Homo sapiens: one gene and its partner. The protein of the gene in region 1 interacts with the protein of each later gene in a biochemical or structural test. Each region holds a gene or a part of one and is shown in the gene's direction. Other genes may lie near its edges.

Region 1 (7,401 bases):
TTTTGTGGCCGGGCATGGTGGCACATGCCTGTAATCCCAGCACTTTGGGAAGAGGAGATGAGTGGATCACTTGAAGCCAGGAGATCAAGACCAGCCTGGCCAACATGGTGAAACCCCGTGTCTACTGAAAATACAAAAATTAGCTGGGTGTGGTGGCTCACACTTCTGGTCTCAGCTACTTGGGAGGCTGGGGCACAAGACTCTCTTAAGCCAGGGAAGCAGAGGTTGCAGTGAGCCATGATGGCGCCACTGTACTCCAGCCTGGGTGACAAAGCAAGATCTTGTCTCAAAAAAAAAAAAAAAAAAAAAATTATTTTTGTGAAGTCATTCACATTACCAATGTTTAATAGAGTTCTGGTTTTTTTTACAGAAAAATTTTGAAAGACTTATCTTCTGAAGATACACGGGGCAGAAAAGGAGACGGAGAAAATTCTGGAGTTTCTGCTGCTGTCACTTCTATGTCTGTTCCAACTCCCATCTATCAGACTAGCAGCGGACAGTACAGTATGTATAGGAATCAGTTTCCACATTATAAACACACAAAACCTGACTTTTCTGTAGAAAGAAATGGTGTTAGGAAAACTGTAATACTTTGATAGTGATGATTATTAAAGGATGTTTTCAGCCAGGAATAATGCGAAGTACTGTTTCAGCATTATTTACTCCTTATAACAACTTTGTGACATAGGCAATTATCAATGTATGAGGGAACTGAGACCTACAACATTAGATACTGTTTTGTTTTGTTTTGTTTTGTTTTGTTTTGAGACAGAGTCTCGCTCTTGTTGCCCAGGCCGGAGTGCAGTGGCACAATCTTGGCTCACTGCAACCTCTGCCTTCCCGATTCAAGTGATTCTCCTGCCTCAGCCTCCGGAGTAGCTGGGATTACAGGCGTGTGCCACCACGCCCGGCTAATTTTTGTATTTTTAGTAGAGAGGAGGTTTCACCATATTGGCCAGGCTGGTCTCGAACTTTGACCTCAGGTGATCCGTCCACCTTGGCCTCCCAAAGTGCTGGGATTATAGACATGAGCCACTGCGCCTGGCCTTATTTTGTTCATTCTTATATCTATGTAGTTCCGTACATAATTGCTGTATATTATATTAGTATAATTCCTTTCAGAACATTCCTGGCTTTTTTTTTTTTTTTTGAGGTGGAGTTTCGCTCTGTTGCCCAGATTAGAGTGCAGTGCCATGATCTCGGCTCACTGCAACTTCCACCTCCCGGGTTCAAGTGATTCTCCTGCCTCAGCCTCCCAAGTAGCTGGGATTACAGGCGTGTACCACTTCGCTTGGCTAATTTTTGCATTTTTAGTAGAGACGGGGTTTCACCATGTTGGCCAGGCTGGTCTCAAACTCCTCCTGACCTGAAGTGATTCACCCACCTTGGCCTCCCAAAGTGCTGGGATTACAGGCGTGAGCCACCACGCCTGGCCCCTGCCTATTCGTTAAAAATATTTATTGTTTGATTTATATACAGTAAAATTCACTCTTTGGGGAGTTTAAGTCTATGAGTTTTGACAAATGTGTAGAATAGTATAACACCGCCAATCAAGATTGAGTTCTGTCACCCTAACGAATTTACTTGTGCTGCCCATTTGTTATCTCCCCCTCCACTCCTAACATTAATCTGTTTCATTCAGTCTTGCCACAAAATATATGTCCCATCTGACCACCTCTTGCCGTCTCCAACCACCACCGCCTTGGTTTAGGCTCTCATCTTAATTACTGAAGTAGGCATCCAGTTGGTCATCTTGCTTCCATTCTTGCTCTAATAATCAGTTTTCCATACTGTGGCCAAAGTGATTTATTTAAGATGTCAACTAGATCACATCGCTCCTGCCCAAAATCCTCTAGTGACATTTTATCACACTTAGAATAAAATCCGGATCTTACAAGGCATTACATTTAGGATCTGCCTACCACTCTGACCTCATCTCCTGCCACTTGGTGGCATTCTGACCACCCCAGACTTCCTTACTGTACCTCAGACACACGAGCTTGTTTCTGCCTCAGGATCTCTGGAGTTGTCATTGCTCATGCCTGGCATGTTCTTCCCCCAGATCCTTATGTGGCTACTCTGCTTAAGTGTCACCTCCACAAAGAGACCACTCTCTTCAAATATGTGGCTCCTCCCTTTAGTTTCCCTTAACCTCCTATATTTTTCTTTATAGCATTTACATATAACTAAGTCAGTACATATTAGTTTAATTATAGATTGTATGTATGTAATTATAGATTAGCTTATTCATGATCTGTTTTCCCCACTAGAATATAAGATCCTTAAGGGAAAGAACCTTTTGTTTCATTCACAACTACATCCTTGACATATAGGACCTGGCATATAGTAGGCTTTCAGTTGTTTGTTATGAATTAATTAAATAATATATATATAGAATACCTCTTGAGAAACTGGGGGCCAGGCACTGTAGTTCATGTCCGTAATCTCAGTACGTTGAGAGGCTGAGGCTGGAGGATTGCTTGAAGCCACATTCAGGACCAGCCTTGGCAACATAGCAAGACTGTGTCTTCACAGAAAAATGAAGAAAAAAAAAAAAAAAAAAAGCCGGGCATCATGGCATGTGACTAGTCCCATCTACTCGGGAGGCTGAAATGGGATCTCTTGAGTCTGGGAGTTCGAAGTTACCGTGAACCGTGATCGTACCACCGCACTCCAGCCTGGGCAATAGAGCAAGACCAGTCTCAGAAAAAGAAGAAAGAAAGAAAGAAACTGGGAGCAGTGGTTGCAAGGAAAGAAGCTTGGGAGCAGAGATCAGAGGTAGTGGGGAGGTTCACATGTTATCACTGAAATAAGTGTAGTACAAACTAGTATTTAGGGCAACATAGGCCAATAGAACTTCGTATGATAATGGGAATGTTTATATCTGCATTGTCCCAGAATAGTAGCCACTAAACCATGTGTGACTGTTGAGTGCTTGAAATATGGCTGGTGGGACTGAGAAACTGAAATTTTAATTTTGTTTAATTTTAGTTAATTTAAATAGCCACATGGAGCTAATACCCTATCAGACAGCTCAGTTTTAGAATAAATACAGCACATTAACAGGTAAATACACATGTTAAGAACAGGAAGATATGTTGCAAAAATGAAAATATGTATTCACACATATTTAATATCAAAACATTTGCATCTACAGGTATGTATTTTGATATATTAGGTTGGTGTAAAAGAAATTGCAGTTTTCACCACTGAACATAATGGCAAAAGTATATAAGTCTGTATAAGCACAGGAAAATAATGGGAAGGATGTGCACCAAAAACAATAATTATCTCAGGATGGCGGTAAAAGGGGGAAAATGAAATAGAGATAGATAATGGGACCTTTAATTTTATTTATGTTGATACTTATATAAATAAATGTGTATGTGTATATATGTATATAATAATGTGTTGCAGGGAAGAAGATTGAAACTAATTGCTAATATAACTTCACAGCAAATCTCAGCCTGGCGTGTTGGATCACGCCTGTAATCCCTGCACTTTGGGAGGCCAAAGTGGGAGGATCACTTGATTTCAAGACCAGACTGGGCAATATAGGGAGACCCTATCTCTATAAAAAATTTAAAAATTAGCTGAGCATGTCCGTGTGCATCTATAGTTCCAGCTACTTGGGAGGCTGAGGTAGGAGGATTGCTTGAGCCCAGGAGGTAGAGTGCAGTGGTGAACCAGGACCACACCACTGCACTCCAGCCTGGGTGACAAGTGAGACCCTGTCTCAAAAAAAATAGCCAACATATCCCTGTATCTAACATTTAAAAAAATATTTTGAAACTCATAAATTAAAGTTGGGGCAGTTGGGGAGGGATAATTATGAATGCGTGAAAAAAAATATTTTTCCATCACACACATATACATATACATGTATTTTGGCTTCCTGGTAGCCAAAGCATAAAAGGAAAAAAAAATGTTTCATAACTGTAATCTGAAAAGAGGGTACAGAGATGAGGCATTCGATTCTGAAGAGTATATGGGAATTGAATAATGCTAAAATGTTTTCTATTTGATCATGCCTTATGGGCATTTAAGGGCTGAGGAGAAAGCATGAACACAGGTATAATTCAGTGAAAAAATGTTTGTGGGGAGCTAAGTAGTATTTTCTACACAGTGGCTTTCTGCTATCTTTATTAGTGATTTTCACTAGGAAGTAAATGAATAGATTACATTTCTTAACTATCACTTAAGTAAATATCTTAATAACATGTAATACATTTAACAGTGGTACCACTAGAAAATGAAGCTAAGAAACCATATAAAGATGACTTATTTTCTCATTATATAACCTTTTATTCTATTGAATTTTTTCCATAAGCATGTTATCTATTCAGAAATATTTTAAAGTAATAATATTTTTAATGCTTTTGACTCAAAATTACAAACTATGTTTATGTTTCCTTTTTATTTTTTCTTAAAAATTAACTATCATGGGGCCAAGTGCAGTGGCTCATGCCTGTAATCCCAGCACTTTGGGAGGCTGAGGCGGGTGAATCACCTGGGGTCAGGAATTTGAGACCAGCCTGGCCAACATGGAGAAGCTCCGTCTCTACTAAAAATATAAAAATCAGCTGGGCATGGTGGCGCACACCTGTAATCCCAGCTCCTTGGGAGGCTGAGGCACAAGAATGGCTTGAACCCAGGAGGCAGAGGTTGCAGCCAGCCGAGATCGTGCCACTGCACTCCAGCCTGGGCGGTAGAGCGAGACTCCATCTCAAAAAAGAAAAAAAAAAAAGAAATGCTGTTTTATTCCTTTTACATGTAGTTCACCTAAAGTAAAGTAGTCTGCAGTTACCAAGTAGAAGTGCATTCATACCTGTTTTAGTAAATAGTGTTTGTGGGCTTTTTGCCACTCCTTTGAATTAGTGTATTATATAACCTTACAATAGCTATTTTCTCTTTTTGATTAAAGTTGCCATTGCCCCAAATGGAGCCTTACAGTTGGCAAGTCCAGGCACAGATGGAGTACAGGGACTTCAGACATTAACCATGACAAATTCAGGCAGTACTCAGCAAGGTACAACTATTCTTCAGTATGCACAGACCTCTGATGGACAGCAGATACTTGTGCCCAGCAATCAGGTGGTCGTACAAAGTAAGTATGCTTTCTGTCTACAGAAAGTCTCCTAACACTGTCAGAGACACTTACTAACTAACTCATTCACTCTTGTTTACCATCTAGCTGCATCAGGAGATATGCAAACATATCAGATCCGAACTACACCTTCAGCTACTTCTCTGCCACAAACTGTGGTGATGACATCTCCTGTGACTCTCACCTCTCAGACAACTAAGACAGATGACCCCCAATTGAAAAGAGAAATAAGGTTAATGAAAAACAGGTAGGTAGTAAAATCGTAGTACCAGAATGGGTAATGTTTTTACAAATCTCACAACATAACCAGATGTTAACTGGAACTGTATACAGTCATGGGCTGCATGACAATGTTTAAGTAAACAATGGACCACATAAATGAATGACGGTGGTCCCATAAAATTATAATGGAGCTAAAAAGTCCTGTGCTAATGTCATAGTGCAACACATTACTCACGTTTGTGGCAATGCTGGTATAAACAAACCTATTGTGCTGCCAATCATATAAAAGTGTAGCACATGCAATTATGTATAGAACATAATACTTGATACTATAATAAGTTAATATGTTACTGGTTTATGAATTTACTATACTTTTAATCATTATTTTAAAGTGTATACCTTCTACTTTTTTTTTTTTTTTTTTAAAGTTAACTGTAGGCCAGGCATGGTGGCTCACGCCTGTAATCCCAGCTGAGGCGGGCAGATCACGAGGTCAGGAGATCGAGACCATCCTGGCTAACGTGGTGAAACTCCATCTCTACTGAAAATACAAAAAAATTAGCTGGGCGTGGTGGCGGGCGCCTGTAGTCCCAGCTACCCGGGAGGCTGAGGCAGGAGAATGGCATGAATCTGGGAGCCGAAGCTTGCAGTAAGCTGAGATTGCGCCACTGCACTCCAGCCTGGGCAACAGAGTGAGACTCTGTCTCAAAAAAAAAAATTTTTTTAACTGTAAAACAGCCTCAAGGCAGCCCCTACAGGAGGTATTCCAGAAGAAGGCATTGTTATCATAGGAGATAACAGCTCCCTGTGTGTTATTGCCCCTAAAGACCTTCCAGTGGGATAAGGTATGGAGGTGGAAGACAATGATATTGATGATCCTGACCCTAGGCTAGTTAGCCTAGGCTAATGTTGGTGTTGGTGTCTTAATTTTTAACAAAAAAGTTCAAAAAGTAGAAAAGTTATATTTGGTTTTTGTGATTTTTTTTTTTAAGACAAGGTCTCACTGTGTCACCCACACTGGAGTGCAGTGGCACAATCTTGGCTTACTGCAACCTCTGCCTCCAGGGCTCAAGTGATCCTCCCAGCTCGGCCTCCCAAGTAGCTGAGACTACAGATGTATACCACCACACCCAGCTAATTTTTTTTTTTTTTCTTGTAGAGGTGGGGTTTTGCCATGTTGCTTAGGCTGGTCTCAGACCTGGGCTCAAGTGATCCATCCACCTGCCTCAGCCTCCCAAAGTGCTGGGATTACAGGCATGAACCACTGCACCCAGCCCCCAAAAATTTAAAATTAGCTAGTACAACCACTATGAAAACCAGTATGGAGACTTCTCAAAAAACGAAAAATAGAAATCTACCCAAAGGAAAAGAAATCAATATATCAGAGGGATACCTGTACTCATAAGTTTACTTGCAGCACTATTCACGCACAATAGCTAATAGAATCAACTATGTGTCCATCAGTGGATAAATGGATAAGAAAGAATTAAATCATGTCATTTGCAGCAACATGGATGGAATTGAAGGTCAGTATCTTAAGTGAAATAAGCCAGGCACAAAAAGAAAAAATATCACATTCTCACTTATATGTGGGAGCTAAAATATTTGAACACATGGAAGTAGAGAGTGGAAAAATAGGGCTGGGCGTGGTGGCTTATGCCTGTAATCCCAGCACTTTGGGAGGCCGAGGCGGGAGGATCACTTGAGCCTAGGAGTTCAATGCAAGCCTGGGCAACATACCCATTGCTACAAAAGATAAAAAATTAGCCAGGCATGGTGGCGTGTGCCTAAAATCCCAGCTACTCGGGAGGCTGAGGTGGGAGGATTGCTTGAGCCCAGGGGGTTGAGGCAGCATGATCGCACCACTGCACTTCAGCCTGGGCAACAGAGCAAGACCCTATCTCAAGAAAAAAGAGAGAATGGAAAAATAGGTAACAGAGACTGGGAACGGTGAGGGGCAAGGAGGAGGATGAAGAGAGTTAAAGGGTACAAACCCATACACAGTAAGATAAAAGGAATAAATTCAGTGTTTCATAGCAGAGTAGGATGACCACCCTTAACAAAAACCTATT
Region 2 (8,190 bases), on another chromosome or scaffold:
TGGACCATATTATGTCTGTTGATGTGCAGAGGTGAAGTTTCTGTTCCCCTTTGGGTACTTCCTTCTTTCTCTTTCTATTCGCATTCTTTGCCACTGCCCCAGCTGTTCCCTGCCGTGGCATTAAACTATCAAAGGATGAAGTGCAGATGAGGGCACGGAGGGCACCAAGGGCACCGTGGGTGGGGGAAGGATTTTTCCCCTCTGGGATGTCTTAACTAGGGCATTACCAATGGCACTTGCTATGGGTAGAATTCCTTTCTGTGAGGCAGCCGTTAACACCTTCAGAAAGAGCTAAGATAGAAGGGATGATAGAGGCCATCCTGACCAATATTTTGAGGTCATTTTCTGGGTCAGAAATTTTTGTGACTGAGTCTTATGTATATATATCTGTCACTTTTGCTTTGGGGGAATTTCTCATTTTATCACAGAAATACTAGCCTATGACATGAAGACTATTTCTCTCTGGCTCTAAGCCATTTTTCTTTCCAAGAGTGGGTTTTTAGTGGACAGAGCTTCTTCTGTAAATCATGCTCCTTCTTGCAATATTTTGTTTGCGGTACTAGCAGTGGATACAAAGGCTGCTTTATCTGTGTTCATGCGCAGATCCGCCAGCCTGTGGATGATCCTCACTCATCAAGAGAGTGTTAGCTGAAAATTTCCAAGAGATCCACCTCCATAAATTTCCACCCTCTGTCACTCATTCATAATGCCACGTCATAGTAAAACAGGAAACTTTTACTCCATGATGGTGTGAAGGCTGTGTGGGGGAATCTTGAAGAAAAAGATTGTCACAATGTATCCTATCATATAACCCAGTCATGCAAATTAACATAGACCTATATTCTGTAACAGATTAGGCCAAGATGGAAGGAAATTGAGGTGTGGAAAATTTATGTTGCTCTAAAATGGAAAGAATAGCCCATACCTCTTCAGGCAATTCCTGCCCAGAAATAGCAGATATCATATTTCTGACATTAAGAAGGATATGTGAGTATATGTCTGCTCAGGATCTATAGTAAGGACCATGAGCATGGACTTTGGGTCAGAAAGATTTGGGTCCTGTCCTTCGCTAGTGGAATGACTCTGAGAAAGTTATTTAATTTCTCTGGGACTCAGTTTTCTTGTTTATACAACAGATAAGTGAGGATAACAGTACAGACCTCATAGGGCTGTGTAAGAGTAGGATAAGGTTTGGCTGTGAATGATAGAAAACCTAGACCATCAGTCACTTCAACAAGAAGGCCATTTATTGTTCTTTCATATAAAAGTCTGGGTAGGTGGCTCATTGCTGATATGATGGATCCAGGTTCACCAGTATACAGACTCTTTCTGTCCTTTTGTTCTGTCTTCCTCAACCTGTAACCTCCAATTCACCATCCAAGATGGCTACAGCTGTGAAATTTTTATTCCAGTCAGCAGGAAAGAAAAAAGAGAAGGAGAAGAAGAAGGACATACTTCTTTCCATAAACCACTTCCACTTACAAGTCATTGGTTATAACTTAATCTTATGAATGTAACCGGCTATAGTGGAGGCTGCTCAAGTGGGAAATGTAATTTTTATTCCAGGCAGTCTTGTGCTTAGCTAAATATGGGGTGCTCTTTACTATCAAAGAGAGGAAAAAAAGGTGTTAGCCCACCCAACTAGCAATCTCAGCCACGGATCATCATGAGATTTAAATGAGACAATGCAGGTAGAGGGTTGAGCACAGTGTTGGGCACTCAGGAAGCACTCAAAAAACATTGTCATCGTCATCATCATCATCATCATCAACATCATCATCACCATCATCATGAGAAGGTGAGGAATACTTTGAAACTGTGACAAGGCATTTTCTTATTTTAACCTGGTCTTGCTGCTAACATCACCCTTGGCCACCTCCCTTTTAAGGTGATTTGAGTTTCATCTTTTATGATACCTTTGAACATGCCTTCATGAAACAAAACTATATAAAAAGGAAAGCAAGGGAAAGGTGAACATAGGACTCAGGATGATGGGGTCTTGGGCCATGAAAATGGAGGGGTTGGGGGAGTGTGTGTGGAGGAATCATCTAGTTAGATGTAAATTATTGTCGAAGTTCTAGTTTTTATTTTGGGTAGTGGATTCACAGGTGCTTACTGCATTATTAAAAATAATTATTAACTAACAATAAAAGTGGAGCTGCATGGATCAATGATCCAATGACGAGAGTGTGTCATGAATCAAGGATTATAATTAATCCATTTCTATGTACCTGAGGTCCTTAAATTGTCTTTGTGTGTACTATATTGCATGGCATATGTGTTTGCATGTTAATAGTAGATAAAAATAGTACTTTCTATTTGCATAGACTTTCAAGTTTTAAAGCGCTTTTACACATCCATAAAAACTGTTTATTAAGTAGTTCATTACAGATGGCTAAGAGCCTGGTGTTACACAAATAGGACTTTGGACTGCTTCCTGTAGGAAAGTTTTTATTTTATCCTTGCACAAGCCCTACAAAGTAGGCAAGGCAGATGTTATTGTCACTATTTTGCAGATGAGAAGGAAGGAACTGAGAGAGCAAGGGGCTCTCATGAGGTTACATAGCGAGTCAGTATCAGAATGGAACTTAAGACTCAGGATCTCTTGGCCAGTGCTTCTGCATTTAGCACATCTTACTCCTCAATTATTCATCCACTAGGCGTTTATTCTGTTACATGGCACATTGTGCTCATGTGTTGTGTTCATATATGTGTGTGTTTTCTGGTGCTGTGTGTGCAGTTCATATAATCTCTATCCACTATGTATGTACCCTCAGAGTCCCTGTGTGCCCCCTAGGCCTATTTGGCTCTTGCAGCTCCGGGAGGACTCTCAGGTGGGAATTCAGTTGTCCTGTTATTCCTAGATCATTGGGCCTCACCATCTCCCTGGAGCTCCAGCTAGGTAGGAAAGCAGCTTTGATATCAGGAATAGATCCGTAGGCCATGAGCACAGAGCAGAGGAGCAAGCCAGCAATGTCTAAATAATGGTGATATTTAATATTTCATGATAATGTATAGTTTATGCTTTAGGATGTGTTCTCATAATTACTATTTCATTTTATTCTCTCTCAGCCCCGAAAGTAGATTTTGTTGTTTTTTTCTTTTCTTTTTCAGATGCTGAGAGATGTTACATGTCTTGCTCAAGGTAACCCAGTTGGAGGACAGTCTTGGCTTCAGCTCATTTGTCTCTAGATCCTGTCATCTTACCACTGTGCCTTGCTGCCTCTGAAAAGGCAGAAGGAAGTTATTCTCTTTCTAGCTTTGTGGAGAAAAGCAGGTGATACCTCAACACCAAGCCATAGGGAGCTTCCAGTGACTCTGCAAAGAAAAAAAAGACCAACTCAGACTCCAGAGCAGCCCCACCAGAGCCTGAGCAGTTGGAGCCTTCCACCTTCCCACCCCTGCGTTCCTCTTGTCCTTGGGCATCTCCTGTGTGTGCTTCGGGGAGGTGATAGCAGTGCTATAGAAGTAGTGGAGTGAAGATGTTTTCCTATCCCCGTGGCCTTAGATAGTGTCTTTGTCTTTGAAGAGTCAGGGGCATCTGGGGAGCTGTCTAACCGTATCTATCCTGTAGACTCGGGAGGAAGCTGCTGGCTGCTGTAGACAGAAGAGAATCCCTGTGCTTCGGGCTCCTAGGAAGGTGTCTGCCATCCTCTCTGTGCCACTGTTATCTGTCTTCTTCCCCATCAGATAACACCATCCACCGCTGCAGGGCTGAGCACGGCACCTTGTACATGGAGCTAAGCAGATGCTGCTTGAGAAGAGCATATGTTTGTGTCGGGGGAAACATGTCTCTCCTTGGTCCACAGAGCCCTACCTGCCCCAGGAAAGGACAGTGTTGGGAGGGTAACTCCCACCCCTCACTCCTCCCCCTCATTCCTGCCTCCACAAGCATCTTCTGGGAAAGGTGAATGAGGGAAGAGACATTTGCACTTGTCCCTTACCTACCTAAGTTCTATCCCCAGTGGCCACTTCTGGGGGTGTTGTCTTCTCTCTGGAGTTTTGGGGGACCTATTAGGGGGCATGTGTGGCCATAGGTCAAGCCTCATTCTCTAACTGGCCTTACCAAGACTTAAGCTGAGGTTTTGTGTTCACCTGTCTGGGTTGCTTGCCATTTCTCAAATGTTCTGCCAGTCAGAGGTGGGAGGAGGTCGGCAGGAATGTACTTGGTCATCTCGAACCCCATCAGAATGTGTGTGGAGGCCTCCTGGCAGCTTCTATGCAGGGTCCAGCTAGATCCCTGGGCTTTTCCTGAGATACACGGGGCTAACCCACTTCTTACGGATTAATTTTTCCACATCGGAAATCAGAAGCCATTCCCCAGGGCCTCCCCTTCAGTTTCATTATCTCCTTTGACTCTGCCCACAACCTTTGAAAAGGTCTCGCTGTTCTTCCCACGGAGAGAGAGGTGCAAGGCTTGCTCAGCCTCACACAGCCAATCCGTGGCAAAGGATGGCGGGAATTCAGGTGGCCCCAATCTCAACCCATCCTCTTCCCACCCTGTATCCTTTTTAGTTTATTTACAGGAAAACATGTTCAAAGGTATAATTACTAAAGTGCTCCTGGTTACACAATAATACGTCTTTACTGAAAAACAATAAATTAATGAGAAAAGAGATGCAAAAAACCTCAGAGGAAAATGTTGAAGTTAGGGAAATATTTAATACGCCCGCCTTTGGCTCACACCTTTTCCTGGGATGAATGACCCCTGTGATTCCAGCTCCCCCCCACCCCCACGAGGTCTCATCTAGCTGGATACCTACAAGCCATCCCTGTCCTTGGAAATACACCCCTCTCCCAATTCGCTGCCGCTAAGAAGCCCAGACAATTGGAGAGGAGTGGATTTTCCATCTGAATTATGCAGCTCCTTTGACACGCCTCCCCTCTCCCTTTGCATAGCCTTGGTTAAGAACTAGCATTTCTTCGTCCCCTCTCCCTGTCCCCTCTCACTGTCCGCGAGGCAGCAGCCCCCAGCCTACTCCGCGATCCTCCCAGCTCCCGGCACCGCGCGTCCTCCCCTTTAAGGCCCGCCCCTCCCCCCACGCCACGCCTCCCCAGGCCCCGCCCCCCGCCCCTCCCCTTTAAGGACCGGCCCCGGACGCAGACGAGGCTGTGACGCGGCCGCCGGCCCGGGGCTGGGTACATTGTCGCGCGGCCGCTTCCCCCCGGCCGGGCCCCCGCCGCCCCGCGGTCCCCAGAGCGCCAGGCCCCCGGGGGGAGGGAGGGAGGGCGCCGGGCCGGTGGGAGCCAGCGGCGCGCGGTGGGACCCACGGAGCCCCGCGACCCGCCGAGCCTGGAGCCGGGCCGGGTCGGGGAAGCCGGCTCCAGCCCGGAGCGAACTTCGCAGCCCGTCGGGGGGCGGCGGGGAGGGGGCCCGGAGCCGGAGGAGGGGGCGGCCGCGGGCACCCCCGCCTGTGCCCCGGCGTCCCCGGGCACCATGCTGTCCAACTCCCAGGGCCAGAGCCCGCCGGTGCCGTTCCCCGCCCCGGCCCCGCCGCCGCAGCCCCCCACCCCTGCCCTGCCGCACCCCCCGGCGCAGCCGCCGCCGCCGCCCCCGCAGCAGTTCCCGCAGTTCCACGTCAAGTCCGGCCTGCAGATCAAGAAGAACGCCATCATCGATGACTACAAGGTCACCAGCCAGGTCCTGGGGCTGGGCATCAACGGCAAAGTTTTGCAGATCTTCAACAAGAGGACCCAGGAGAAATTCGCCCTCAAAGTAGGTCTGGGGCCCGGGGAGGGGAGGCGGGGCCGGTCCCGGGCCCTGGAGCTCCACGGCGTCGGGTGCCCGTCCCGGCCTGGGTCGCGGCGCGGGGCGGAGGGGTGGCCGCGGCGGGGCGGGGCGGGGCGGCCGGGCCGGCGGTGCCGAGTGCGGCGCGGGCGGCGGGTCCCAGCGCCCTCGCCTCCCTGACCGCTTCCGGCCGCTCCCGGGCGGGAGCCCTGGGACCCGCTCCTGGGGACTCAGGGGACCCTGCCATTTTGGGGTTTGAGCGGGATCCAGCCGAGTCAGAACGGTTGGCTTCGGGACTTCTGCTAATTTCACTCCATCTCAAGGAAGTGATTTTGGGGTTGGTGGTTCCCCGTCCTCTCCTCCCTCCTTTTTCTCTCTCTGCGGGCACAAAAGGCCCATTACTCATTGAGCCGGTTGGTCGGTTGGTTTGGAGAAGTCGGATCGCAGAGGTTTATTTAGCCTCGCTCCTTATTTGGGAGCCGGAATGTGTGATTTCACTTCCCCGAGCCTCGCGAGGGCAGCCGGGCCGCCTTGGGGCGCGCCGGGCAGGAGGTGTGCGGCGGGAGGGTCCTGGGTGTCCCCCGGCTGCGGGGGCGGGATTATTTGGATCCCGGAGCTGGCCCCCTCAGCTGGCCCCCTCCCACGCCCGCGCGGGGCGGCTCCGGGGAGAGGCCGGCGGTGTCCGCGGCCCGGCTGATCATTGTGAACAGAGTCTGTAACCCGCGGCCGGGCCCGTGCTGATTCCGCCTCCTAGAGAGGGCCACTTGCTGTCCTGGACTCGCGCCGTGATGGGCAGTCTGAGGAAACATTATCCTTGAGCCGGGGGAGCCCATCCCTTTTCTTTCTTTAAGGGGTGTGGTGGTGGGGAGAATAAGGATTCAAGTGAGAATATCGACTTCAGAAGTTAAACACAATGGACTGGGAGGTCTCATGAGATGGGTGGGTCCGCAGTGAAGTGTGAGCCGGTCTTGCAGGGTCACCAACAAGGTTTTCCTCTCACAGGGGTTTCAGGTCAAACCAATCTCTAAAGGTGACGCCTCAGGTCTGTTTCCCCTGGGGTGTCTCAATGATTGGAGGAGGAGAAAAATACTTCCTGTGTTATATTTTTCTCTTCCCCTTCAGCCCCCACAGCGAGCTGTATTTCAGTTGTCAAGTACAAAACTCAGAAATGTGGTATGGGTGGAACTATTGGAATATACGATCAGATGTTTTAAAAGAAACACCAGTACTTCGGGGTTGTACGGGGCAAGCATGTTCCATTTCTAGATTTTAAGGCCTCTAGAATTGTTTTCCTGCTGCTCTCATACTCAACCCTGTTACAGTGCTTTGCTTTCTACTGTAAGTTATTGCTCTGGGATCTCGGTTGTTGTTTAGTGTTGACTGTTGGAGAGGGGATAAGTATCTTCAACACTTCAACATTTGTGTCTTAGACTTCTCTTTCCCTACTCATAACTGAAGGGAAAGGAGGAGGAGGAGTTGTTTGGATTGAGCATGGCTCTGACCTTGGGGACTGGAGTTGGGTGAATACAGTTTGACCACAGTTAACCTGTATCATTGAGGAAGTGACAGACGGTCTTTACAGGAGTGTTTGCTGTCCCCTCTGAGACACCATCTGCCTTCACCCATTAGTAGTTTGGGGACACTGGCTGTTCATTCTCTTGGATATTTGGAATATTATGTAAAGACTTCAGAACAAAAGCTCCCAACTTCTGCTCTGTATTCTGTTTAATAGACACACGCACAAAATCATCCTATAAAATGCTTTTGAGTGGCAATTCAGATTTCTCTTGTAACTAACGAGAGAGAGGTTTACATATTTTTCTACTTTGAATAGTTTTGGAAGGAAAAATCCAGCAGCGTGTTAAATAACACTCATAGTTTATCCCTCTCAGGTTAGAAGTGGGCGAAGAGTGAAGTCAGTCTGTTTTGACAGGCAGCCTGCTCCCAGATCTTTTAAGTTGACTCAACTGTTAAATTGTGGATTTCCCACACACGTCTTTGTGTTAAAACTTAATAATGGAGGAAGAAAGGAGAGACAAGGCATTTGGAGACTGACAGCAGTGTTAACAGCACTTCCATATCCAAATATTGGCTGAGACATAATTACAGCTGTGGGGGGAATCTGGTTCAAAGAACGCTGTTCCAGAGACACACACCAAAGAGATTTCTAGATCTTGAATTTTGATTAACCTCAGGTGCTGAGTAGTGAAATGGTTTTCAAAACCAGAAGTCTAGTGATTATAAAGCAGGAGAGGAAGATGGAGTGGGGCAAGAGGGATTACCCCCTTGGGAAGGTGCCTGAGAAAAGGGGAGGAGACCTCTATTCTACAGTGTGCCGAGGCCAATGCTGGGGGCTAGGGCAGAGCTGGAGGGCAGGAGCCCAGCCTCTGCTGGGGTTCAGAAGTCTGCTATGTTGCAGCCCTGAGAGTTGATGGGAGCTGGCAGCTGCTTAGATGCTCTCC

The links. The genes of interacting proteins can lie anywhere in the genome.
Region 2: of the proteins of ATF1 (region 1) and MAPKAPK2, one has a biochemical effect on the other in vitro, tested with the Homo sapiens proteins (one study listed by BioGRID).

Annotation. Positions count from the first base shown.
Region 1 is NC_000012.12:50,809,086-50,816,486, forward strand, and holds part of ATF1 (cyclic AMP-dependent transcription factor ATF-1), read left to right. Parts: intron 1-370; coding exon 371-504; intron 505-2,535; exon of another isoform or gene 2,536-2,778; intron 2,779-4,901; exon of another isoform or gene 4,902-4,924; coding exon 4,925-5,107; intron 5,108-5,194; coding exon 5,195-5,354; intron 5,355-5,757; exon of another isoform or gene 5,758-6,855; intron 6,856-7,401.
Region 2 is NC_000001.11:206,679,793-206,687,982, forward strand, and holds the start of MAPKAPK2 (MAP kinase-activated protein kinase 2), read left to right. Parts: upstream 1-5,112; 5' UTR 5,113-5,437; coding exon 5,438-5,716; intron 5,717-5,841; exon of another isoform or gene 5,842-6,065; intron 6,066-8,190. UniProt on the Homo sapiens protein: Stress-activated serine/threonine-protein kinase involved in cytokine production, endocytosis, reorganization of the cytoskeleton, cell migration, cell cycle control, chromatin remodeling, DNA damage response and transcriptional regulation.